Homo sapiens: one gene and its partners. The protein of the gene in region 4 purifies or fractionates together with the protein of the main gene of each other region. This does not show direct contact. Each region holds a gene or a part of one and is shown on either strand. Other genes may lie near its edges.

The links.
Region 1: the proteins of PPP2CB (region 4) and PPME1 purify together in Homo sapiens (affinity purification with mass spectrometry; 8 studies listed by BioGRID and IntAct, with this or other methods). This does not show direct contact.
Region 2: the proteins of PPP2CB (region 4) and PPFIA1 purify together in Homo sapiens (affinity purification with mass spectrometry; 6 studies listed by BioGRID and IntAct, with this or other methods). This does not show direct contact.
Region 3: the proteins of PPP2CB (region 4) and STRN3 purify together in Homo sapiens (affinity purification with mass spectrometry; 7 studies listed by BioGRID and IntAct, with this or other methods). This does not show direct contact.

The regions. Positions count from the first base shown.
Region 1 is NC_000011.10:74,244,279-74,251,305, reverse strand, and holds part of PPME1 (protein phosphatase methylesterase 1), read right to left. Parts: exon of another isoform or gene 5,811-7,027; intron 5,273-5,810; coding exon of another isoform or gene 5,231-5,272; coding exon 5,101-5,230; intron 4,228-5,100; coding exon 4,183-4,227; intron 1,161-4,182; exon of another isoform or gene 984-1,160; intron 353-983; coding exon 288-352; coding exon of another isoform or gene 48-287; exon of another isoform or gene 1-47. UniProt on the Homo sapiens protein: Demethylates proteins that have been reversibly carboxymethylated. Demethylates PPP2CB (in vitro) and PPP2CA. Binding to PPP2CA displaces the manganese ion and inactivates the enzyme.
Region 2 is NC_000011.10:70,322,663-70,329,689, reverse strand, and holds part of PPFIA1 (liprin-alpha-1), read right to left. Parts: intron 5,289-7,027; coding exon 5,187-5,288; intron 4,883-5,186; exon of another isoform or gene 4,844-4,882; coding exon 4,679-4,843; exon of another isoform or gene 4,563-4,678; intron 4,191-4,562; coding exon 4,116-4,190; intron 3,429-4,115; coding exon 3,327-3,428; intron 3,094-3,326; coding exon 2,872-3,093; intron 2,591-2,871; exon of another isoform or gene 2,436-2,590; intron 1-2,435. UniProt on the Homo sapiens protein: May regulate the disassembly of focal adhesions. May localize receptor-like tyrosine phosphatases type 2A at specific sites on the plasma membrane, possibly regulating their interaction with the extracellular environment and their association with substrates.
Region 3 is NC_000014.9:30,904,377-30,911,403, reverse strand, and holds part of STRN3 (striatin-3), read left to right. Parts: intron 1-241; coding exon 242-363; intron 364-4,359; coding exon 4,360-4,527; intron 4,528-5,845; coding exon 5,846-5,986; intron 5,987-7,027. UniProt on the Homo sapiens protein: Calmodulin-binding scaffolding protein which is the center of the striatin-interacting phosphatase and kinase (STRIPAK) complexes.
Region 4 is NC_000008.11:30,802,807-30,809,833, forward strand, and holds part of PPP2CB (serine/threonine-protein phosphatase 2A catalytic subunit beta isoform), read right to left. Parts: intron 1-7,027.

The DNA of each region.
Region 1 (7,027 bases), on a different chromosome or scaffold from region 4:
TTCCATCTCTGGCTTTTGGGGGTATTGGAGAAGTAGAGCTTAAGATCTTAACCACAGGGCCCTGGGATGAAATAGCAGAGTGTCAGTAGCTCCTCAGCACATATACACAAAACCAATACCATAAGCAGCTGCCAGGGAGAAGTTGGAGAGCTGGTGGAACTGCATCTGCATAGGCTCCACAGCAGCTGCTGCAGGCAATGCAGGCTGAGACTCAGAGACTTGTCTTCTGTGACATCCAGGGTTATTCTCACAGTTGTCCTTTTACAGTCACTGAGCACCAGACTCACCTTGTCAGGGGCATCCTCATGGACTGCATGGCCACACTGGGGTAGGACCTGCATCTGGAACTTCCCTGGAGAGGAATCAAAGCAAGGCAACTTCAGCGACTAAAAGAGCCCTCTCTTATGCAGCCTCATAGGTCATTCCAGGAGCCCAGGACCTACCTCCCCATTTCCAACCTCACCTCAATACTCTGGACCCAATTATCAAGTCTTGCTGAGGATGGTAATACAAGTAATTGTAACCTTGCGCCAATCATTTCCCTTCACTTTTTCCTTCTGTCCTATTTAGTGTACATTTACTGTGGGCCAGAGACACATAGAAGAAACAGTTCTTGTCCTCAGGGGATTTACAGTCCAGTAGGGGAGTAAAACACAAAAACCAACATTTTAATGCAGCATGTCATTCCTATGATAAAACTGGCTACATGGGGCTGTAAGAGCATAAGAAAGGGAACTTCACAATCCAAGAGGGAACCAGGAAGGAAGGAAGGCTTGAAATGGCTTGGAATACAAGAAGCTTGGCATGGTGCTTATGAGAGTGGTTAACAATAAGGCTGGAGAGGTAAGCAGGGGCCAAACCATTAAGGATTTTGTAAGCTATGTTAAGGATTCAAAATGTATTATTACAATAATAAGTTACCATCTGAGCACTTAAGCATGTGCCAGGCATTGTACTAAGCACTTTCTCATACTGTCTTACAGAACACTGTAAGCTCGTAACTAATGCGACAATGATTGAGAATGAACAGCGATGACTGATAAAGAAGATCCCTAAGGAGACTAAAGGATATGAGACCCAGAGCCCCCATAAGTAGAGACAGCAGATTTTCTCAGCCTCAGATTCTCTATTTATAAAATAAAGGAATGGGCTTGAAAGTTCTTCTGGTCATTACATCCTGTGGTTCTTACCCCAGTTACGCAGGATTCAAAAGTTTTCAGTGTATTCTTCTATCCATTTTTAAAGTTGATTCTCAAAATCTACCCTATACAATTAAGCACAAAAATACTGAAATTCTTTTCTGAGATGATGAAACTGAGGCCATGATTAGTGAAGTAACCTGCCCAAGGCCACTTCATTAATTAGTGGAGGAATAAGATGATCCCATTTAGTAAAGTCCATCCTGTGCCCCTCCTCCTGCAGTAAGCTGCCTCTCTCTGGGTGCTCAAGCCTAGTCACCTCTCCCTTCTAGCTCCTAAAGTTGTTAATGCACTTGGATCCAAACACAGAGCAGCACATGGCCCTCTTGTAAGTTTCAAGTAAGTTTACATTTTACATGCCACTGGTGCTTGCCTCCCCAGGAGTGTGTCATTTCCATAAGAACAGGGGACAATGGTGTTATTACTTGCTCTATATCCCTAATAAGACCTAACACAGGGTAGGGCACTGAGTAGATGCTTAAGTCTTTAGCGAATGAATGATGAACAAATGACTAGATCCAAAACTTACAACTCCAATCTCCCTGTTCTTTCTGTTAGATCAGCTCTGATGACTAGGGACGCATTTGTCCTTCCTCTTTGGAAGAGTAGGTATAATCAGAGAGAACTCACATACACCAACAACACTGTGCCAGGTACACATAAAATAACATGTTCATGGGTAATCCTCATGATTATTCTATGAGGTGGGAATATTTCCAAACTCTTCTCTCCCATTGCACAGATTAGGAGCCTTAGGTTCAGAGAGCCTAAATTATTTACCCAAGGGGTACTATGAATAGGTGGTAGTTTTCCAGGATTTCATAACTAAGTCAGTTGGTTTGAACACAGTGCTGGCAAAGCTGTGGTTTGGAATCTATGCAGCCTTAGCCATTTCCCTTTGTTCTGTGGAATGTTCCTTATCCTCGCCATTTACTCTCTATACTCATAGGAGGCTTTCTTTAAACCAGAAGGTGGTCTTGATATAATCCATATTGAGGAAACAGGAGGACATCTCATAAGGAATCGTGATTACTTCCTGAATATAATGAAAGGCATCATTTGTTAGACTACCCGCATTTTTTTCATTTAAACTTCATGTAACTGTACTGAGATATATCATTATCTCCATTTCACAGATGAAGAAACTCAAAATTAAATAAGTTAGGAATTCACTCATACCGCAAAACTATTAACAGTGATTCAAACCCAGGATTGTCTGATTCCAAGGCTGGTGATCAACAATGATTTCAAATGCTATCCCAGTCCATGTCAACTGCCTTCAGGCAGTCTCAGGGGCCATATCTGATTCTTCTGTCTGCCCAGCATCATGCATAGGTCTTGCACAGAAAGGGTGCCTAGGAAAGGTTTCTTGAATTGAACTTAAGTGTCTTAGATTCAATTTCATGGCACTCATGTTGGTAATTACGGGCTTAGACATTTATAAGCATCTACTTAAATAAGTGTCTAAGCCCATAATTACCAACATCAGTGCCATGGAAAAAAAATCACACAGTCCCAGCTCATAGTCCTATTCTAGGCCTCAGGATACAATGTAGTTAAAGGAAGGCAAAGCCATGAAGGTCTGGGACCAGAGTTTTATATGTGAGAGCCTTTGAACAACTATTATGAGAGAATATAGCTCCTTTTGCTGTGGAAAGCTTGAGGATAGCTAAAAGAACAGTTTGAGAGGCCCATGAGATATCCAGCAGGTTTGCTACATAGGCTAGGACTGGATCTCAGGAGAGAGGGGTGAGGTGGATGTTTAGCTTTGGGAGTCATCAATATATAAATGGAAGCCATGAAATTGTCCAGGGAGAGTAAGTAGGGAAGAAAGGTCTAGAACAGATTCTGCCTGAGCCTGAAACTTTGGTCTTGGAGTTGGCACCTCTTCTTCCCATAACCCAAAAGTTGTATGCCTACTGGCTTCACCTTCACTGAGTCTTTTACCCGTACTAAAGCAAGAGCCCCCACAAAATTGGACCCGCTGCCTCCACTGTTATCTAGCTAACATACATGCATCTGTATACAGTGCTCAGCATGTCACTTTCCTACTCATTATACCCCACGATCTGTTTGAGGCTGCCATCAGTTTTTTCATTTTCCAGATTAAGAAGACTAAAGCTGAGGCAAGTCAGATAACTTGCCCAGAGTCAAAAAATTACTGGAAAAGCAGTATTCAAAACTCAGTTTTCCGAACTTCAGAGACCTTACTTTTACCATCTTACCATGCTGTCTTCTAAACAGGTATTTATACCTTTTTATATCTGGATTATCTTGAGCCTTTCCCTTTCCTAAAACTTCTAACAATAAGAAAAATACTGGCCAGCTGCAGTGGCTCACACCTATAATCTTCGCACTCTGGGAGGCCAAGGCAGGTGGATCACTTGAGGTCAGGAGCTTGAGACCAGCCTGGCCAAAATGGTGAAACTCCATCTCTACTAAAAATACAAAAATTAGCTGGGCGTGGTGGTGCATGCCTGTAATCCCACTACTGGGGTGGGTGAGGCCCGGAACTGCTTCAACCTGGGAGGTAGAGGTTGCAGTGAGCCGAGATTGGTCCCACCGCACTCCAGCCTGGGCAACAGAGTGAGACTCCAATTCAAAAAAAAAAAAAAAAAAAAAACCCACAAACAAAAAACTGATCAGTAGTCAGAATATCTCTTTTCACAGTATCATACACCTATACAGTACTTTATAATTTTTAAACACATTGCCTCATTTTAACTCTTATAACTGAGACATAGGTAGTAGTATTATAATCTTCATTTTTGGATGGATTTTTTTTTAAACAAATTAAAGCTCAGGAAAGGGAAATACTTGCCCATAATCATATAGTGTGTTAGGAGTAGAGGCGGATGTCCAACTTGGGTCGGACTCTAAAGCTCATGCTTTCTCCGTTATACCTCACTATCTCAGGATGTTAACTGCCCTATCACCCTTTCTTCAGAAAAGGGTCCAGGGGTATAATTTCTTGATAACTTACCTTGCATCTGGCCAATGGTCAGATCTTTATCCAATCTATCAACACCTAGAAAACAAGAGAATTCATTGTGAAACAGATTTTGCTGTTCACGTATTAAGTAAAAAGTGTTACAAAGTTTTAAATATGATGACATTCTCCATTCATGTTTATACCAATCCTAACTCCCAGAGCATACTCTCACCACCAGATAAAACTTTTCAGGTTGAGATTCCCCTATAATTACTATGTTAAACTGGTTCTGAAAACAAGGTTTTACTATTTTAATTCTCATAATAATCAGAATATCCTTATACCACTGCATCTAGCTCTAGACTAAGAAGGACTTGAGCTTGACCAAGTAGACAGGCCAGGCCAGAATTAGGTCATCCTTTATGCTTAGATGAATGCTTATGCTTAGTTAGGTTTAGAGACTGGGTGTGGGGAGGAGAAAAGGCATAGATGAATGAGGAAGGTACTCTACTTTGGATGTCACTACTCATTTGGTGAGAAGTTTTAATGAGGTCATATTGAGATGACAATATACCAACACTGCTATGGACTGAGTTGTGTCCCCCTAAAACTCATGTTGAAGCCCCAATTCCCAATGTGACTGTATTTGGAACTAGGGCCTATAAGGACGTAACCTCAGGTCATGAGGGCAGAGCTCTGACATGATAGGATGAACGTCCCTAATTAATATCCTTAAGAGAAGAGACACCAGAGAGCTCACATTCACTCTTTCTCGGCCATGTGAGGGCACAGAGAGAAGGCAAGCCAGGAAGACAGCCCTCACCACAACCTGACCATGCTGGCACCCTGATCTCAGACTTCCAGCCTCCAGAACTGTGAGAAAATAAATTTCTGTTGTTTAAGCCACTCAGTCTATGATATTTGGTTATGGCAGCCTGAGCTGACTAATATATGCACATATACACTTACCAGCCAAGAGCAGCAATTTAGGAATGGGACAACTAAGAAAGAGATTGGATAAGCCTCGGAACCAGCCGTCCCAGTATTTTTCTGTTTTTGCCAGTTCAATTCTCCAGGTGTATGGATGGTCTTTCTTGGTCTGGAGGAATAAGAGCAAGTTCTGAGTCTCCGAGGGCAACCCCTGGAGGAACAGGATTAAAAACTAGATCCCTGGGAAAAGGAAAGGGAAGGAAACTAGCACTTATTAAGGACCTACTAAGTCCTAGACATTTTAATATACATTCAATCCTTCCAACAGTCTTGTTGTATGGGTCACTGTTAATATTCATTTTAAGATAATTACAAGTTTACTTTTTATTGCTATTAGTTTCTGTGAATTTAGGAAACTTTCTTAAGATCACAAAGCTAGTAAGTGGTAGTGCCAAGATTAAGCCTTTCTTATACTTGGTTGGCAAAAGGATGTTTCATCAAAAGAATAACTACAAAGAACATACTGCAGTATGAAAAAATGCTTATAATATAAGCAAGAAACAGATTACAACATGTCATCTAAGTTAGGATTACTACTGGAAAAATGTGGTATAGTAAAGTACTAAAAAGGAAAACTGAAAATAGGTTGATTTGTCAGTAGAGCATTTTTTCTTATATTTTATGATAATGATATAATGTTCCTGCAATAGTAATTTTGAAAGGAAATATGAGACAAATATGACAAAATGTCAACATTTATTAAATCTTTATTGTAGATAAGCACAGAGTATGCAATCAAATATTGGCTGAAAAAATAAATAATTCTCTATATTTTTCTGTACCATTGAAATATTTGAAACATTATAATTGAAATAAATATACTGAATCAACCACAATATGAAAATCTAAAAGTGAACATGAGATAGTAACATATTATCTTAAAGATCACTGGATGCTTAAGATGTCCATACTACCCAAAGTAATCCACAGATTCAATATAATCTCTATCAAAATTCCCATGGCTTTTTTTTTTAGGAAATAAAAAAAATCACCTTAAAATTCATATGGAATCTCATAGACACTGACTAGCCAAAACAATTTTGAAGAAGAACAAAATTGGAGAACTCACACTCCCCAATTACAAAGCTGCAGTAATTGAAACAGCTTAGTACTGCCGTAAAGACAAATAGACCAGTGGAATAGAATAGAGAGCCCAAAAATAAACCTTCACATAAATAGTCAAATGATTTTTGACAAGACTGCCAAGACCACTCAATGGGGAAAGAACAGTCTCTTCAACAAACAGTACTGGGATAACCAAACAGATATGCATATTCCAAAGTGAAGCTGGGGCCTTATCCCATATCCAAAAATTAACTCAAATGGATTAAAGACCTAGTAAGACTAAGACTATAAAACTCCTAGAAGAAAACATGGAGGAAAAGCTGGACAGTAGACTTGGTAATGATTTCTTGGATATGACACCAAAAAGCAGTGAACAAAAGCAAAAATAGACAAATGGTACTATGTGTATGGAATGGGAGAAAATCTTTGCAAATCATATATCTTATAATGGATTAATATTCAGAATATATAAAGGACTCCTACAATTCAGCAACTAAAAACATCGAGTAACCTGATTAAAAAATGGTCAAAGGGCTTGAATAGACATTTCTCTAGAGGTGATACAGAAGTGGCCAATAAGCATATGAAACGATGCTTAACATCACTAATCAATAAATAAATGCACAGCAACACCACAATGAGATACCACCTCACCCCCATTAGGATGACTACTATCAAAAAAGAGAAAAATAAGTGTTGGTGAGGATGTGGAGAATTCGGAAGGAACCCTTGTGTACTGAGTTGTAAAATAGTTCAACCAATAAGAAAAACATCAAGGCAGTTCCTCAAAATATTAAAAACAGAACTACTGTATGATCCAGGAATCCCACTTCTGGGTACA
Region 2 (7,027 bases), on a different chromosome or scaffold from region 4:
CTTTGGCCTCCCAAAGTGTTAGGATTACAGGCGTGAGCCAGTGTCCCTGGCCAAAAACATTTTAAAGAAACAAAAATTAGCCACGCATGGTGGCACGCCCCTGTAGTCCCAGGTACTTGGGAGTCTGAGACAGGAGGATTGCTCGAGTCCAGCAGTTCAAGGCTGCAGTGAGCTATGATGGCGCCACTGCACTCCAGCCTGGGTAACAGAGAGAGATCCTGTCTCAAAAATAAATAAATAAATAATAATGTCCTCAAAATTAAATTGATGAAGATGTCAATTTTCTCAAATGTGAATGAAAATGTAACTACCTCAAATACCATAAATATTCACCTATACGATTAACAAAGACTTGTCTCTCTTAATACTATGTCTGGCCACTCAGTTGACCAAGCTTTCCTGTTTCTACATAATATTATAAAAATATATACACTCAAATATCTAAATATTTTTCAAGGAGGTGAAAGTGTCCTCAAAGAAGACGCAGTCTACGTCTGCCTCACGCTACAAATGGTCTCACACAGGACAGGGTGCGGCCTCTCTCAGTGGACACAGTAGTGAGATACAAGTCTCACTTTCTAGGATAAGGGTTGGATGAACTCTCATACAATTACAAGACTCAAGCATATTGACAAATGGAAACAGAAGTACCAGTTTAATTTAATTGGATGCAACTACCTGAAGTCTACAAGATGATTACTATACAGTTTCAAACACTTAAGGCTAGGACCAGAACTTTTTGCTTGAGAAATACCTGTCCTCCACCCCCAGAATTCACTATTTTCAAGTTGTTCCCTATTTATAAAATGACTAAAGTTAGCAAAGTCTAAATATTACAAGTGATAGGGGAAAAAAGCTCAACATCACCGATTAGACAAATGCCAATCAAAACCACAATGAGACAGCATCTCACACCAGTCAGAATGGCTATTGTGGAAAAGTCAATCAGTAACAGATGCTGGTGAGGTTGTGGAGAAAAAGGAATGTTTTCCTGCTCTTGGTGGGAGGGTAAATTAGTTCAACCATCGTGGAAGACAGTGTGGAGATTCCTCAAAGACCTAAAGATGGAAATACCAACCCAGAAATCCCATTACGGGGTATATACCCAAAGGAATATAAATCGTTGTATTATAAAGACACACGCACACGTATGTTCACTGCAGCACTATTCACAACAGCAAAGACAAGGAATCAACCTAAATGCCCATCAATGATAGACTCCATAAAGAAAATGTGGTACGTATACACCATGGAATACTATGCAGCCATAAAACAGAATGAGATCATGTCCTTTGCAGAGACATGGATGGAGCTGGCGGCCATTATCTTTAGCAAACACAGAAACAGAAAAACAAAATACCTCATGTTCTCACTTATAAGTGGGAGCTAACTGATGAGAACACAGGGACAGACAGAGGGGAACAACACACACTGGGGCCTATCAAAGGGTGGAGGGTGGAGGATAGGAGGAAGAAGAGGATCAGGAAAAATAACTAGGCTTGGTACCTGGGTGATGAAATAATTTGTAAAACAAACCGCCAGGACACAAGTTTACTTATGTAACAGACCTACACGTGTACCCCAAACTTAAAAGTTAAAATAAAAAATTAAAAAATAAAAGTGATAGGTCTTAAAAGAATTTCAAAATTCTCTGCATATTAATCTCTGCCACATAATCTCCTGCTGTAGCCAAAGAATAGAACCTTAGGTGACATACTACATGCAAATGTTCTTCCTGTGGTGAATTCCTACATGAAATTACTCAACGTCAAACTACCAAACTGAAAAGCAGACATTCAACGGTTGAGGCGCCTGACAAGGGACAAAGCGCAGGTTAGAAAGTGACAGGAAGGGCACCTGAGAAAGCACTCAGCCTCACTGTTTCATGATCAAATAGTTTCTCTCTTTTTTTTTTTTGAGACGGAGTCTCGCTCTGCCGCCCAGGCTGGAGTGCAGTGTCCCGATCTCGGCTTACTGAAAGCTCTGCCTCCTGGGCTCACGCCATTCTCCTGCCTCAGCCTCCCGAGTAGCTGGGACTACAGGCGCCCGCCACCACGCCTGGCTAATTTTTTTGTATTTTTTAGTAGAGACGGGGTTTCACCGTGTTAGCCAGGATGGTCTCGATCTCCTGACCTCGTGATCCGCCCGCCTAAGCCTCCCAAAGTGCTGGGATTACAGGCGTGAGCCACCACGCCCGGCATTCATGATCAAATAGTTTCTCACAGTTATAATGGCAGAAATATTTGTCAGCAATGAGTATATTGTGACATATTTTTGCTATACGATCCTGATGACCCATGTAGAAGCAAATTCCACTCTTGATTGTTTGACCATTAATATTCAACGCCACAAATTCCTTGAAGGAGCAGGTCAGAAAATGAGAAGACCGCCAGCAACGCCCCCTCCCACAGTTAAGAGACTATACTCACATTGCCCTACGTGAGCTAGCACAGCCAGTATCAATATCTGCTTGCTAAGTATGTGTGCAACAGAAGGCAATCTGAACATAAGAACAAATTAAGACAGCCTAGAAATTGCACAGATGAAGAATCTACAAACAAGGACATTAAAGAATATTAAAGCAGCACAGGTAGGAGAGGCCAGTGTGGCGTCCACTTCATGGCCATGTCAGTCAGTGGGACTAGTTCTCTACTTTGAAGAGCTCAGGGACAGGAGATTTCACAACAAAAATGGGGAGGTAGCTTATGGCAGTTTCACAGCACTCTCTCTTTTTCAATATAACTTATACAATAATCCAAAGGTTGAAAGTAATTGGGAGAGTAAGAGACAAACAGAGAAAAAAAATCATTTAACTAAAACGTCCCAAACATACAACTTCATGACAAGACTGTAGTTTTTGTTATTGCTCACTTCACGGACATCTCGTTGCAATTTTGTGTTCATTTCTTCAGATTTGATGAGATCTTTTCTAGCCGTGTCCAGATCCTCTTCCAGTTCTGTCACATGACTGGAAAGGGAAGCCAGGCGTTCTTTCATTTGGCTCTGTTCCCTTGACTGCTTACTTATGATTTCTTGGAGCTCAATTACTTTAGCAAGGTCTTCCTCGTGGCTTAAAGAACCATCAGAAGATCTCTGATAGGGGGAAAAAAAAATCCTTAAATACCCTTGTTTGGTGAGCTATAAAATAAAAATACTTCCAGGAAATAGCTAAAATCAAAACTGACTTATGCAATCTGTTGGATTACACAACTTTCATGACCACTTCAGCTCTAAGCCGGTACTTTAGCAACTGTTTTCCACATAACCCGACACATACTGTGAACAAATGAAATCAAACAGAATAAAGACAAAGCCTACAGACTTGCCTTTCCACTCGTGCTTGGTGTATTTTCTTGTTCATGGTTTATGTCCAGCACTCCATCTGTTAGAGTTTTTTTCTGATTATTCTGTTCTTTAAGAATCATTAGCTGAAAGCAAAAAATTGAATATGAGTGTAAAATACCTTACATAAGAGAAATAAGTAAAGATAGCAAAACTCCTTTTGGAAAAACACAACTAAAAACTGCTTAACATAGTATAAAAGAGAAAGCATATGGCAATGCTACCCAATCCGAAAATAACCAGATCATTGAAGATGGAATTTATTATCCACTGGCCAGACGAGTCCTTAGGTAACCATCATTTTGTAGTCCTTAAAATGACTCAGATAGGCTGGTCCTCAATTGGGAAGATAAGTAACATGTGATATGTACAACTACAGTCCTTATACTTCTTTTACTTTTTTTTTTTTTTTTTGGAGACAGAGTCTTGCTCTGTCACCCAGGCTGGAGTGCAATGGTGCAATCTCAGCTCATTGCAACCTCCACCTCCTGGGCTCAAGCAATTCTCATGTCTCAGCCTCCCGAGCAGCTGGGACTAAAGGAACATGCCACAACTCCTGGCTAATTTTTGTATTTTTAGTAGAAATGGGGTTTCACCATGTTGGTCAGGCTGGTCTTGGAACTCCTGACCTCAGGTGATCCGCCCGCCTCGGTCTCCCAAAGTGCTGGGATGACAGGTGTGAGCCACCACGTCTGGCCTTATGCTGCTTTTAATAATTAAAGGATAAAAATAACCCCCCCCCAATTCAACTCATGATGAAGTCTCAAGCTTACCTCTTTGTGTGTGGCACCTAATTCCTCTTCTAACAAACTACATCTTTCAAGTGCTACTCGTAATCGCTCTCTCACCTGAAAATAAAAGGGGTTGAGTTTGTGTGTGTGTGTGTATACTGTTTATTTTATTCTTAATATATAGTTAAGTGTAATATATACACTTAATGTATATATTAGTGTAATATAACATAATAAAATACCATTAATGTCTGTCATTGATCTTACTGTCAAGAAAACTTGTTAATGGCTCTAAATTAAGTTTCAGAAAAATAAATCTTCCCCCGAAATATCAGGTTGTTGCAAAAGTAATTGCAGGTTTTGCCCACAATTACTTTTGCAACAACCTAATACTACCCAATTTGTAACAGCAAATCAATATACATTAGTAATTTTAAGACATTTAAGCCAATTAGTACTTTTTAAACCTACAAAACCCTGTCTTCTTAGAGAAGTTATTTCCAAGAATTCAAGAAGCTTCAAAAAACAAAAGTTACACCAACACTTGTGAAGCTGGCCTAATACACAGCATGTGCACAAACCAAGACTTATGTGGCTGATGGCACCTTTTCATCCAGAGCTTTGTGGTGTTCAAATAAGGACTTCAGTGCTTTCAGCACTTCCACTTCGCTGGACACGCCTGCTGGAGACTGCGCTTGTCTCTTCACCACGGTCATCCTAAGAGACCGCTCATGCCTGGAGACAAGGCATTCCAAATGCTCTAACAGCAGCTGAAATAAAAGGCCAAAATAAAGACTTGTTAAACAGCATTTTTAATTTCATGATTGAATCTGGGGCAAATAACTCCTTTACAGTCTCATACTAAAATGAAGTCCCTTCAATTCCGCAGAAAAACAAATTCCTCTCAATTGTATTAAAATATCATAAATTCTCATCACAAATTTCAAGCCATTAATGTGTGATCATGCTGACTAATCACAGTCTGCTCAGTGGGAAAAGGTATGAAAAGTATTTCAGGCCAGACAGAGTGGGTCGTCCTTTCGTTTTGACACACCGCCCCTCCTCCTGACAGTGGCTCCAGGGGCAGGCAGTGAACAGAAAGGTCACACTCACCCTGGTGTTATTCCTTTCTGCTTTCAGTTCAGCAATTTCTTCTTCCCTTTCAAGGAGCTGTTCCCTGCATACATTGAGTTCTTTAGTAAGTGCTGCGAACTCCTAGAAAATCACAAAACAAAATTAAATAAATAAGAAAGACCCCCTAAAGAAAGCCTTTCATCAAGGCTCCACAGTCTTCACACAAAGGCAACCTCATTACAAGTTATGGGGAAGGGATCTCAGTGATCCTCCAGAGAAAGAGGGCATCAATGGACCACACAGATTCCCTAACAAATCACAACACTGACAGACCATCTGACTTCCCTCTATCCCTGCACCCTGGGACAAGGACAGCAGGGAAAGAAGGGGAATCCAAGTCCACCTTCTCAGCAGCCAGAGAAGTCCAAAACATTTTCCTGAACAGGATCCTGACATGAACTGAATGAAGACATTTTAAATGACTCACAGACATGTGATCTAGAGTTGCTGGAGAGAGAGGAAAGATGGCCTAGAAGGCCACCACCCCTGTCCTAGCCTCCTTTTCTTCCTTTTTCTTTCTGAGACAGGGTCTCATTGTGTCACCCAGGCTAGAGTGCAATGGTGTGACCATGGCTCACTGCAGTTTTGACCTCCAGAGCTCAAGTGACCCTCCCAAGTAGCTGAGACCACAGGCTTGAGCCACCGTGCCCAGCCTCTCTTCTAAAGTAATATTTCTTCTGCAAGAATCCCTACTGTGGGTAATCAACTTCTAGCATGACAGCACAAGAAGCTCCACTGACCTGCTTGCTCCCAAGGAAAACAGGTGAACATTGTAAGAAAACAACTGTTCTGAGACTCTGGAGATCGTTCTAAGGGTTCACAGCAAACAACTGAAAATTCAGTAAGAAAGGCCAGAGTCTGTTGTATTTGAACCAAGACTGCTCCCTGCCTCCCCTTTCCAGGTCAGTGAGGCAGCGACTCTGTTCCAGACTGCTGCAGCTGATAATGTAGTGCCCTCTCCCCCAGTTCCACCCCACCCCAGCTACGTGGTGCTGATGCTGCATCCTGGCTAGTGGAGTCATGGGCAAAGTGGGCCTTCCTACCTCTGTCCAGCCTCCATTCTGGAATGGAGGCTCAACTTTGAGTGTGGCAGGCTGAGAATACTGGGGGTCCTGATCAGCTGTGCCCTGGCTCTGTAAGACGGTAGCTGCAGGGCTGGAGTGACAAGCTGAGAGGGCCCTGGCTGCCGCCATAAGACCAGGGGCGTCATTCAGGGAGAAACGAGTTTGGTGACATTTAAACCTCTTTAAATGTTAGGGCACTAACATTTAAACCCTGGGCACTCTCTTTAAACCTAGGAGCAGTGGAGGTCCTAGTGAAGGCAACTGGAGGTGTGGGTTTAATGGAGGCACAGCCTGGACTGCGGCTGGCTAGTCAGCAGGGAGAGCTGGAGAATTCTTGCTGCAGGAGCCCTCCAGAGTAGGAACAAATCTCCTAAAATGACTTCAGAAACTGTTTCTTAGAATTAGCCACAATTTCACTGAATTGGTTTCTAATTATCCCAGGGCACTGCTGAAGACAACAGAAACATATGTGGGGCTCAGAACTGAGTGTGGTCAGAGAGAGTGGAAGACAGCAGCAGGGTGACTGTGGACACATCCAAAGCTGCGCCTGGCTGGGGAGTAACAGCAGAGGCTGAACACAGCGGGGGTGGGGAGGGGACACAAGCACATTCCACTACATGAATCTAGCATTCACTGAACTGCTTAAGCTGGCAAGTTTTATCTTAGTATATTTTATTGCAATTAAATATATATAGACATTATAAACATATTATACAGTGAGTTTTGGAGACAAGGCTGCTCCTGAGACCATAAAAT
Region 3 (7,027 bases), on a different chromosome or scaffold from region 4:
CTCGAACCTGGGAGGTGGAGGTTTTACTGAGCAGAGATCACCACTGCATTCCAGTCTGGGCTGGTGACAGAGTGAGACCCTGTCTCCAAAAAAAAAAAAAAAAAAAAAGTACCAGTCAGGTGTACATGTTCTCTTAAAACAGTTTTTAGATATTACATAAATTCAGAGGTTGGGGGAATGGAGATTTGAGTTTCTTCTTAGAATTTATCAGTAATTTGTTTTTCCTCTCTTCCTACAATAGCGGCCCTGTTCTGTCATTAGCTATTAGTTCTAATGGAGAACAGTGTTTTAGTGGTGGTATTGATGCAACCATCCAGTGGTGGAATATGCCGAGTCCCAGTGTAGATCCATATGATACATATGGTAAGTAAAATGATCAAAATGTATTTTTTTTAAGTGAATGGAGCTGACAAAAGTAAATACCTCAAATATGATTACAAGGTTATTTAAACCTATATTAGTCACCTCATTTAGTTCTTCCATTTGCTAATAAATTGCTTTATTAAAGAGAAAAATTAGGAAATGTCATGCCATGGGTATTTAAGCCTATGAATTGATACTTTCTCTGTTGTTTAAAAAACTATATTAATTAAAATGTTAATTTAGGTAGTAGTTACAAAAAGAAGGAGGAAACAAAATGTAATCTAAGTAACAAAATTTTGAACTTAAGAAATAGTTTATATATTTTAAAAATATTAAGCAAAAGACAATGGAACCAACATCAGGGGTATAAATCATTAAAACTTTTTGGAGCCAAAAATTTTTTTTGTTATTCTTAGCTCATATCTACAAAAACATTCTTAATTTCAAAATGGAAGAAAAAAAAAAAGAAAGGAAACCTCCTTTGACTTGCAAATGTAGCTTTTAGAAATCTGTTCTACAGAAACACCTACCTGTACCTGTGTTCAAATATATTTGTAAGGGCACTGTTAATAATTATAAAACGTTAAAACAAAATGTTTATGAACTCTTTGTTCTTTTTATTTAACACACACATTGTGCCTACATTAGCTAGGCATTGTGGTAAGCACTATGTCAAGAAATAAGATTTAGACTAATGGAAAGTAGAGACATAAAACAGATAAGCGAAGGGATGGGATCTATGGTTACAAATTGTGATAAATGATAAGAAGATAGAGTACTGTTGAGAGGGCGTAACAGGCAGAACCTTCTCTAGAAGAGTTAGTCAAGAAAGGTCTTTCTAAAATAGTGACATTCAAGCCAAAATCTGAAGGATAAGAGGAAACTTTCAGTAAAGAGTTTTAAGCCAGAAAGTTATCTGATAAATGTAAGGTTTTAAAAAGGTGACTGTGTCTGTTGTGAGAAGAATAAATTGGGGGCGAGAAGAGTGGAAAGAGAAATACCAGTTAGGAGGCTGCTGTCATAAAGTAGTCCAGTAAACTAGGTGACAAACGACATTGCCAAGATTAGAGTGGTGGTAGCACAGCATTTAGAAGTGGTTTTAAGATACGCTGAGGGAGTGTGGTAGAATAGACAGGATTTATTGATAAATTATGTTGAGTAGATAAAGTGATGGGTGAGTGACTCTTAATTTGTATGTGTTTAACTGCTTTACTGAGATAATTTACATATCACAAAATTCACCCTTTTAAAGTATACAGTTCAGGCTGGACACAATGGTCCATGCCTGTAATCCCACCACTTTGGGAGGCCGAAGTGGGTGGATCACTTGAGGCCAGGAGTTCAAGACCAGCCTGGGCAACACAGTGAGACCTCATGTCTGCCAAAAATTTAAAGATTTGCCAGATGGGGTGTCACATGCCTATAGTCCCAGACACTCGGGAGGCTGAGCTGGGAGGATCACTTGAGTGTGAGAAGTAAAGGCTGTAGTGAGCTATGATGGTGCCAGTGTACTCCAGCCTGGGAAGAGAGTGAGACCCAATCTCTCTCTCTCTCTCTCTTTCTTTTTTGGAAACAGTCTTGCTCTGTCTCCTAGGCTGGAGGGCAGTGGCGTGATCTTGGCTTACTGCAACCTCCGCCTCCCAGGCTGAGGAGCTGGGACCACAGGTGTGAGCCACCACACCGCACTAATTTTTGTATTTTTTGTAGAAATGGTGGCCATGTTGCCCGGGGTGGTCTTAAACTCCTGGGCTCAAGTGATCTGCCTGCCTCAGCCTCCCAAAGTATTGGGATCACAGGCATGAGCCACTATGTGCAGCCACAAGACCCCATCTCTAAAAAAAAATTAAAGTCTACAGTTCAGTAGTTTTTACTATGTTCACAAAGTTGTACAGCCATCATCACTAATTTCAGAACATTCACAAAGTTTTACAGCCATCATCACTAATTTCAGAACATTTCAAACATTCAGAACATTCAGTCCTGTTTGATGTGAGTAACTGAGCATGTGATGGGAGCATTTATTGAAACGAGGACAGAACAGGTGTGAGGAGATTTAAGATGGTGAGTTCAGATTTTAGGCATGTTAAAGGATGACAAATATCAAGTAGGTAATATACAAATAAGGAGCCCAAAGAGATCTCGATTGAAGTTAAAAACATGGACAGTCTTCTCTATACAAATAATACATTAAACTATAAGAATGGGCAATACTGGGGGAGTGTATTGTTTGGTGTAAGAAGAGAAGACAACCTGGGACTAAAGTCCTCAGTAACTCTGACACTGGAAGAGTGGCTAGAGCAAGAGAGCCAAGAAAGGAAACTGAGGAGGTGTGACCCAAGAGACAGAAGGAAGTGCAGGAGAGGGTGCGAAATCATGGAAGCGCACACTAAAGAAGAAACAATTTTGAGAAGAAAGAAGCAGTCTGCACTTTCGAATGTTGCTGAGAGGTCCAATAATATGATATAAAGTTTCCTTTTTATAAGTGACTAGCAGGTCACCCAGGTCTTGGCCAGACAGAGTTTGGACGCTGCAGCTAAGACTGAAGAATGAAGGGACCTCTGGATAATCTTTCATGTCAGACTATATGGATGAAAAGCAATATAATGGGAACAACAACAAAATGTTTTGTATCATCAAAGAAAAGTATTAAATTTGATAGTGTAGGGATCATCATTAGCAAGGATTGTTTTGGTGTGGTAGTGGTATCAGAAACCAAATTGGAGTGATTTGAAGAGTAAACAGGAAGTGAAAAGCATATTTCTATTGCTGGGTGGAAGGGGTGGTAGGATAGGATTAATGAAGATTTTTTGTTGAAGAGATTCTGGAACAAGTTTTTTTTCACTATGGTAATGATTCCAAGGAGGAGAATTTGTGTAGTAGAGAAGCAGTAAACATTACAGCAAGTTAGTGACATCTGGTATTAGCCTTTGATAGGATGGAGGACAGATTCCTTGCTTGTATCTGGAAGCTAGGAGAAGATACCTTTAGACACTAATCATTTATATATTACGCAGCAAGAAGATGGGGGATAAGAAACATGCAGCATTATTTGAATGCTATATTTTCTCAGTGAAATATGAGGCATAGTCATTCATGAGGAAGAGAGGTTGGGAGCTGTGAGAATTGTGGAGATGATAAGAACCATTCATGGAAAGTGGGAGGAGTTTACTAGAAAAACAGGATTGTCAGACAAATTATGCTCAATGTTATCAGCTGTCAAATGTCTGTCAGTTAAGGAACAGATAAATAAAATATGGTATATCCATACAGCAGAATATTATTTGGCACTAAAAATAAATGGAGTACTGATACATGCTCCAACATGGATAAACCTTGAAAACATGTTCAGTGACCAGGAGTTCAAGGCTGCAGTGGACTGTGACCATGCCACTGTACTCCAGCCTGGGTGATAGAGCAAGACCCTATTTCAAAAAGAAAAAAAGAAAACATACTCAGTGAAAGAACCCAGTCACAAAAGACCACATATTGTATGATTCCATTTATAGAAAATGTTCAGAAAGACACATCTATAGAGACAGAGCATTAGTTGTTGCCTAGACTTGTGGAAAGGTGGGGAGGAGGAATTGGGGGAAGTGACTAATGAGTGATGAAAGTACCCTAAAATTGATTGTCATGATGGTTGTATAACTCTGTGAACAACATACCAAAAATCATTGAAGTATACACTTTAAATGAGAGAGTTGTATGGTATGTAAATTATATCTGTATCTCAAGAAAGCTGTTTTAAAAAAAAAAAAAAGCATATGTTTCTTTATAGAAAATTGTGAAAATACAGAAAAATGTTGATGGGAGGAGGGTATAAAAGTAGGCCATAACTCTACTCTTAGATATAGCCACTATGTACACTTTAGTTTATCTTCTTGTGGCCTTTATGTGTGTTCTTTATGCTCAGTTATATGGTAAGTTTTCTTTATGTATCAAAGTTTCTTTTAAACTTCTTTTACCTAATTTTTTGTTTGTTTGTTTTTTCCCCAGAGCCAAATGTTCTAGCTGGCACTTTAGTTGGTCATACAGATGCAGTTTGGGGTCTTGCTTATAGTGGCATAAAAAATCAATTACTGTCTTGTTCAGCAGATGGCACTGTTAGGTTATGGAATCCACAAGAAAAATTGCCATGTATTTGCACTTACAATGGAGATAAAAGTAAGTAAATTTTGCATCTGTGAGAAAAGTTAGTTTTTTTAAAAAATTGGAATATATAAAGGACAAAGTAATTGATGTATTTCTTTACTGTTCCAAAGAGATATATTGAATGAATTTTGTAAAAGTTAGGATAAACTTTTTACTCATTTTTTTGAAGTGCTTTGCAACTATGTCCTGTAGTGCAATGCTTTTTTACCTTTTTTGTATTCCATTTTTTAAAAATGTAAAACTATTGTATATAACAGTGGAATAGACAAATGAGGATACTCATAGGGACAACAGGAGGCACACCACCTGTTCCAGACGACTACCCCACAAAGACCGAAGGGATCACAGTCTCAAGCATACCTATAAACCCTGTGTTCCATTACCTCGAGCACACTAGTTGAGTAGTCCAGCCATAGTCACTGAACCCCTAACTGGAACAGTACAAATTGGGTTATTTTCATGATTTTAAATATTTTCCTATTTAAAAAGGCTTTAACCAGTTTACCTTTTGAAGACATTTACTGGTCTTATTTTCCAAGTCATTTTAAATTTTTTTAATTAGACCTTTTATTTGTACATAAAAATACATATTGTTTTAAAACATTTTAGGTGAATAGTAAATATATAATTTTGTGTCTCTTAGACACCGTAGTGATTGTACTAATTTTCAGTTATCCAAGCTTTAGAGGTAAGAATTCATTTAGGTATTTGTTTCTGGCTTCATCTAGATAGTTAATAGCTTGGCTCCATATTCCATCTAATTGTGCATTGATCTGGCTAGTTTAATTTAGTATGTTAAAGAGAGAAATTGCTGCTCAGGCCATTTTAGGGTAAAGTACTGCATCAGCTGATTCCAGAGTCCAAGCCATTTTCATGAGTCCAAAAATCTGACTTGTATTAGCTGCTTGATAAGGCCTACAGATCTCTGATAGGTGAACCAGTCTCCCAAAGTTATGTGAGAATGCTAATTTATCATTTTACAGTAAGAAGTATAATTGGCAAATTGGCCAAAAGACTAGGATTTTATTTAATCCCTTAGAAGAAAACGTGTAATAGAACAAATAACTTTTGCATGTATTTACTCTTTATGAGCTCTGTAGTTATATTTTTCTTACAATATTAAATAGAATGCTATAAAGTTTTTAAATAATTGAGGAAAAGATATTTCTTATCTCACCATCCTGACACAGTTGTGTTCCTTTTCATTATTAACAGTATTTCAAGACTATTTGAATTCCTTTTTCTGATTAGAAAAACAGAGATTTCAAAAAGTAGAGATTTCATAGTAATTTTACTTTGTTTACATTGTCTGTCTTTGGGCTCATTTCAGAGCATGGAATACCTACATCAGTTGACTTTATAGGCTGTGATCCAGCTCATATGGTAACCTCTTTCAACACTGGTAGTGCAGTAATTTATGATTTAGAAACATCACAGTCATTGGTGATACTTTCATCACAGGTAGATTCTGGTAAGTTTTCATGGAGTTTCTTTGAAACCTTAAAAAGGGTTATTACACAATAGAGGGTGATCTTTTAGCTAATTTTCATATTTTCACTATTTGAATTTAGGATGGCAAAATAATTAGTTTCATAATGTTACAGTTATACTTATTTATATTATGTCTGCTTTTTCTTCAAATTTTGCTTAAAAGCTTGGGTGGACATATGGGAAAAGAGGAATGTCTAGAGCAATATGAAGGTGAAAGTAGAGAAAATAACATAATGAACTTAATGTACTCAGCATTCAGTTTTAATACCTATCTATAAATGCCCAGTATTACACATGCATTATGTGGTGTTTTACAGTTTATTTAGATAGGGATCACATAAGATTTATGTATTGCAGTTGTTTGATAGGTCTCTCAGGTCTCTCTTCATCCATAGATTCCCCTTCATCTCTTTTATGTTCTTTTTTTTTTTTTTTTAATTGACGAAATTGGCTACTTTGTCTTGTCAAGTTTCCGACAGTCTGGATTTTGCTAGTTGCATTCCTGTGTTATTTAATGTGCTTCTCTATTTCTATTCACAGTTCTCCTGTGAATTGATTATAGATCTAAAGACTTATTCAAATTCAGGTTCACTGTTTTTTTCTTTTAAAAATTTTTAAATGTTCTTGGCAACTTTACTTCATAAGTAATTTGTAAGCTTTTATCAGAGGTGAGTATTTTCTGGTTGTTCATGTTTTTGTGATGTTTTCAGTCTGGATTATTTCCTGGGTTCATTCATTTTCTATTGAAAGATTTTCTAATTTTATCATTCCCTCTCCATTTATTAGCTAGATTATTCCTATAAAAAAGAACATCTCTTTATCAACAATTTGGTTACCTTGGAGTTAGTGTGTATTAAGGAAAAAGGCAAGATAAATGATTGGGTTTTGGTTTTCCCCTTTATTTACCAGTTTTTAAAATAATGAGTTGGTTTGCTAGCACCCTCTAAAGGTGACCAGTTTGTCTTGGGTGGTGTTTTTGGTATCATCATACTCTCTCATGGATATAAATGTATTTGATGTG
Region 4 (7,027 bases):
ACAATATGGAGGAATCTTGGATATATTATGCTAAAAGAGAGAAGCCAAACACACAAGACATAACCCTGGAAATGAAATTCAAATCAAAAGTACACGGAAGAACCGACTGTGGGAATGCTGACAATGCTGCTGTTGGAGAGACTCCAAATATGCAGCCAGGAACTTAGCAACACGCAGAAACTTAGTGACATAAAGAAGTGAAAATCCAAACTTATTGCATAAATGAGGAAAATTGTTTTGGAAGAAGTGATGCTAGCAAAAATCTCTTTCTGTATTTGTCAGGAAAGATCACTTTTACTTCGGCTCCTAAATAAATCAGACGAACAGTTCCTAGGACTTTATAGGTATATTTAAGATTATCTCTTGTATCTCACTAGCTTTTGTTTTTTTTTAAGACATGGTCTTAATCTTCTTGACAAATACAGGTATTTCATGACACTGAAAGCACAAAGGAGGCCGGGGGCAGTGGCTCACACCTGTAATCCCAGCACTTTTGGAGGCCGAGGCAGAAGGATCACTTGAGTCCAGGAGTTCAAGATCACCTTGGACAACATGAGGAGACCCTGTCTCTACAAAAAAATGAGTAAAAAAAGCCAGGTGTGGTTGTGTATTCCTGTAGTCTCAGCTACTCAGGAGACTGAGGCGTGAAGATGGCTTGAGTCCAGGAGTACAAGGCTGCAGTGAACTATGATCATGTTACTGTACTCCAGCCTAGGCGACAGTAAGATCCTGCCTTTAAAAAAAAAAAAAGCAGCTTCCTGGACCTGCCCAAGACATGTCAATCAGTCTCTGGAATGGAGTCAAGGAACATGAATTTCCTATTTCTTTCCCAAGTGATTCTCATGTGCGCTTAAAGTTTATGGAAAAGATGGACAATCAGACTATACAAAAATGCTAAAACTTGCACAGTAAAAATTATACACACATATCACAAAGTAGAAAATAAGACCTTAAACATTTTTAAATGGCTAACTTTTGGAGAATTTATACAACCAAGAAAAGACAAAATACAATTTTTTTTTTTTTTTGAGACGGAGTCCTGCTCTGTCGTCCAGGCTGGAGTGCAGTGGCGCGATCTCCATCTCAGCTCACTGCAACCTCCGCCTCCTGGATTCAAGTGATTCTCCTGCCTTAGCCTCCCAAGTAGCTGGGATTACAGGCGCGTGCCACCACACCCAGCTAATTTCTGTATTTTTAGTAGAGATGGGGTTTCACCACGTTGGCCAGACTGGTCTCAAACCCCTGACCTCGTGATCCGCCCGCCTCGGCCTCCTAAAGTGCTGAGATTACAGGCATAAGCCACTGTGCCCAGTTGACAAAATACAAACTTAAAACAAAAAAAGAATATGCCAACTCAACTGGAAAAATCCCTCACATTGCACACACTCCACAATTCTGATAAATCTAGCCTTGTTTTCTTCATGTATTTTGGTATTGCCATTTATTATTATTAAGGTTCTCGTCCCTCAGAATTTGCTATGGAATAAAAATCTGTATAGTGAAGAATTAACCTCACCCGAGGAGAGGTCTGGCCTTTGCCCCTGGAATTTCCTGCTTGGTAAAGAGATCTCTGCCTGGGGGCTCTGACCTGCGGACCATTAACAATGTGACTCACGATGCGGACTTTGGATGATCCCACTATCAGTTTGGTCTCTGGAGGACTGGACACTACAGATGTCAGCCCCTCTTGTACTCTGCCCTTATGAGTCTTTTCCCTTGGCTTACTTTAAATTGTATTCATTCCCTGTAATAAACCATAATCATCAGTGTAACAGCTTAAAGTGAGTTCTGTGAGTCATTCCTGTGAATCACTGAACCTAAGAGTGGTTTTCGGAACCCACTGAACTAGTATATTGGTGCCAAAACTGAGGCAGTCCTGGGCAGTGTTCCCTGTAATTTATAGTTCACTGAACTTTATTTTTTGTCTGCTGTTCTGAAGGTACATCATGACTAAACTTTTGAAGATGGTGTCAGAGGTGAGAACAGTGTTAGGGACTGTGCCTTCTAACTCTCGCAAAATCCTTTTTAATTACAAAAGTAAACCACATTATAAAGAATTTGGAAGGTTTTCTATGACCACCCTATTAAAAAAAAAAGAGTCTCTTGAATTCAAGCCCATCACTGTCCCCATCTTCTGCTTTTTCTTGCCAGCAAGAATCAATGCCTGGTGTTCATTAATCGTGTCCCCTCTTCACAGCTGAATCTCTAGCACTTTGAACAGTCTGGTACATAGTGGTTCAACTAAAATCTGTTGAATGTACGGGATAACTACACAGTGGCAGCATTCTGTCAACCAATCCTCTCCTTTCTTCTTCACTGCCCACAGGAACAAGCGCCTCTTTTGCTACTCAAGCCAAGTCGAGAATACACTGAACCAATTCTGAGCTCTCATCATCCAGGACATAAATATCATGCGGAACTCTTTTAAACGAAGATGAAAATTATTTCCCTCTCTATAAGATGGGATTTTGAGCTGGGCGCAGTGGCTCACGCCTGCAATCCCAGCACTTTGGGAGGCTGAGGCAGGCAGGTCACAAGGTCAGGAGATCCGAGACCATCCTGGCTCACATGGTGAAACTCCATCTCTATTAAAAACACAAAAAATTAGCCGGGAGTGGTGGCAGGCACCTGTAGTCCCAGCTACTCGGGAGGCTGGGGCAGGTGAATGGCATGAACCCGGTAGGCGGAGCTTGCAGTGAACCGAGATGGCACCACTGCACTCCAGCCTGGATGACAGAGAGAGAGACTCCATCACAAAAAAACAAAAAAAAAGAGATTTTGAGCAAAATTAAACTACAGCCTACACACCGTATCCTGCATATTAAAAAAAATCCAACTATGCTAAAAAGTTAATTCAAATAAGCTTTTTTCTAAGATTGAATAGGTGAGAACACTTAAATTCACCACTGTATCCCAGTCTCAACATAAAAACGATTGTCTTTGTATAAAATATTCACTTAATAGATCTCCAATGGAGTCTTCCACATTTTTGGTGTAACATGATGCTATTATAACGCAAGTCAGGAATCTCAGGTTGCACCTCAGGATTGTCTTTTAATTCATTTGATCACAAAAGTATCTCAGTCAAAAAACAGTTTACAAGGAATGATGATAAATATTTCTAAATTACAAAGGACACAACAGCAAACCAGTTCTAAGCTTGAGTGCTTGAGCTCTCCCATTCTCTGGAAAGGAAACGGAATCTGTAATACACAGAACTCCTTCCCAGGGTTAATATGATTTTTTTTTTTTTTTTTTTGAGATGGAGTCTCCCTCTGTCACCCAGGCTGGAATGCAGTGGCGCGATCTCGGCTCACTGCAAGCTCTGCCTCCTGGGTTCACGCCATCCTCTTGCCTCAGCCTCCCGAGTAGCTGGGCCTACAGGCGCCTGCCACCACGCCTGGCTGATTTTTTTTTTTTTGTATTTTTAGTGGAGACGGGGTTTCACCATGTTAGCCAGGATGGTCTGGATCTCCTGACCTCATGATCCGCCTGCCTTGGCCTCCCAAAGTGCTGGGATTACAGGCGCGAACCACCATGCCCGGCCGTTAATATGATTATTAATGAAATTTAGAGTTGAAAAGTAACGTACAGGAACTATTAGATCACATTTGGTCATTAAGGAAGAAAAGATGTCTTCATACAAGTTTCTTTAAACAATCTGGATTAGGTTTACATTTCATTACATTTACTTGAAGGAAATCAGTTCAAAACAATAAAAAATTTCTATTTAACACAGACTCAGATTTCTTATACAGATTACTTCTGTAACTTTAATATCATTCTTCTTAGAAAAAACTACATTCAGAAAACAATCTAGGAAAATTAATTAAGCATTAATTCCATCTTCAATTTCTGGCATTTTCATTTCCTTTTACCAAGGAAGGGCTTCATTCACCAAGTCTTTTATAACATTCGTACTGAAGAGAAAAGACTGTGAAGAAAAAATTTCTGCAAGATCTTCAAATAAGAATAAAAGGCACACACGGCAATAAAAGCAGGCAATGAAAAGAAATTTTACATTGCAAATATCTTCACTTTATCTACTTAGGTAAATATCTTATGGCAAGGGTATATTATTGTTAAAGGGCAGTATTAAGTATTAAATATATTTACCTAGTCATATATATTTGACACGTCATATATAAAGTAGAGAAATGTAACAAAGTCCACTTTCCCGCCATTAGCAATAGTTCATGCTAGTCTAGTTTGGTTTAATTTCTTTACCTGTCCACTAAGAGGCTGGCTTAGCAAGGAAAACAATGATTTGTTCAGTCACTAGAATTGGGTCTTGACCCTCTATTTCACTGTAATCATGCCATTCTTCATTATACTAAGAAAGGAGCTATTTTATCACTGCATTTTAGATTTTATCAATGGACCACCAAAGCTGGCACTAATTTTTGTTCGAGGGAAATTAAAAATGGAAGTACCAGTTAGGCATTTTGCCTGTCAAGACCACTATTTTTATTTTTTAAGCTGTAATCAATCACAGAAAGTAATCTAAAAAAATTTTCTCAATTCACAAAAATCACTCATTTTTACCAGAATCTAATCTTCATTAAGATGGTTTTGGGTATTCAGGAACAAGCATACTATTTCACATTAGGAATGAAGTCATATCCTAAAGTTATTTCTGCTTATTTCAAGGCTAACGCCAGGACTTAGAAACATTTCCATCAGTTCAATATAAAATTTACATATTTATACTTCTACACAAGCCTCGACATTTTTCTCAATACGTACTTTATAATCATCAGAATAAAGATCTGCCAGCACACACATTGGCTGAATTTCCCTCCCCACCTAAAGAATCATCACCAAGGTTCTTCAGTTATAAAATTTAACAGGTCAAAGAGCTTAAAATTTTTACTCTTTCTGAGACAACAGTTAAATATAGTTCTAGTCACAGAGTGTCCTGAGCAGTGCCAGCCTGGCTCTCTTGGCACACAATCTTCTAAAATAACTGCATACTGCTGATGCAGGAATGAATCACAGAAGCAATTTCTCTGCACACACAAGAGGAGTCAAATTCACAATTAGCTTCAAAAGCTGGATTGCTAATTTAAGCTAGTGTTAAGAGCTAGTCTTCTCAGAAGACATGCCTTGCTATTTTATGCAAACAATTTTTCACTAGGCAGAAATTAACCTTGGAAGCCAGACACACCATACCATTCATACTCTTTATTTTTTGTAGTCATTCACCCACTGGCACTAGGATAGATTTTATTTTTGCAACTACCTCAAAATAGGCCTTTACTAGTACTACTCTGGTCTTGATTTCAGTGGACTCCTTCAGCTTTCTTTTTTTGGAGACAGAGTCTCACTCTGTCGCCCAGGCTGGAATGCAGTGGCGATCTCGGCTCACTGCAACTTCTGCCTCCTGGGTTCAAGCAATTCTCCTGCCTCAGCCTCCCGAGTAGCTGGGACTACAGGCACACACCGCCATGCCCGGCTAATTTTTTGTATTTTAGTAGAGATAGGGTTTTACCATGTTGCCCGTGCTGGTCTCGAACTCCTGAGCTCAGACAATCCGCCCACCTCGACCTCCCAAAGTGCTAGGATTACAGGGGTGAGCCACCATGACCAGCCGACTCCTTCAGTTTTTAGGCAATCTGAATTAGAATAGAAATTTAAGGAAAAACCACCATCATACGATGTAACTTCCTATAGAATAGTATTTCCAATAGAATAAAAAAAGGTATTTTTAAAAAACCCAAAAATTGAATCACAAGGATTAAAGATAGTTTATATAATTAGGTTTGACTCTTTATTTTTCTCATATTTTCTTTCTACATGCCTGCTACTCTTGCCCTAGAAAGGTAGGGCAAGTATTAAGTAGACCAAGTCAGGAGTAAAGATACTTCACACAACTGCTATTAATTCCAGTACTGTGTGGTTCACATAACAGGCACCACTACTTTTCAGGGTTCTATAGCCACTATATAAAAAAAACTCCTTTGAAGTATATTTACCAAAGAAAAGGCATATTGGCACATCTATTCATTTTGCATTTCTTACAAAAGAAAATGGGTGACACTTATGATTAAAACTTTCAGCCTTCCTTTAGTTAACATTCACTGCGTGCTTACTTCTCATTAGGACTTTACATGGCCTTTTTTTTTTTTTTTTTTTTTTGAGAAAACTGCATTCTGTCACCCAGGCTGGAGTGCAGCGGTATGATCACTGCTCACTGTAACCTCTGCCTCCTAGGGATTCTTGTGTCTCAGCCTCCCAAGTAGCTGGGAGTGCAACACTACGCCCAGCTAATTTTTTTTTTTTTTTTTAGTAGAGGCAGAGTTTTGCCATGTTGGCCAGGCTGGTCTTGAACTCCTGGCCTCAAGTGATCTACCTGCATCGGCCTCCCAAAATGCTGGGATTACAGGCGTGAGCCACTGTGCCCGGCCAATGAATATATATCTTAGCACTCACAACCAACCCGGGAGGATTGGTACATATTATCTCTGTCATAAGGAATCAGAGGTGCAGAAAGACTGACAGCTAGCAAGCTGTGAAGCAGGACTGGAACTCAGACAGGATGAATGCTACACTTGTTATGTATCAACAAGGAGGATGGGGTAGGGATATAAAACGGAACTAGAAACTAAGGTCAGAAAACATATATATGTATATATACTCATACATACACAAACCACAAAGCTAGGTCATAGCTGCCAGAAGAGGGCTGCAAAACTAAGCACGGCTCAAAAAGAGTAGAGAGAAATGAGTATTATCACACTTTTCCAACCCATTGGCAACTCCATCAATGGGGGTAGAGAACAAAGATGAATGAATTTCACTAACAAATTCATGCTTTGTGGGTAAGGACAAATATTCAAAGAAAAAAAAATGGGCTAGGAGTGGTGGCTCACTCCCGCAATCCCTGCACTTTGGGAGGCCAAGGCGGGAGGATCACTTGAGCCCGAGAGTTCGAGACCAGCCTGGGCAACACGGTGAGACCCCATAAAAAAAATAAAAAAATTATCCCGGTGTGGTGACACATGCCTGTGGTCCCAGCTACTTGAGA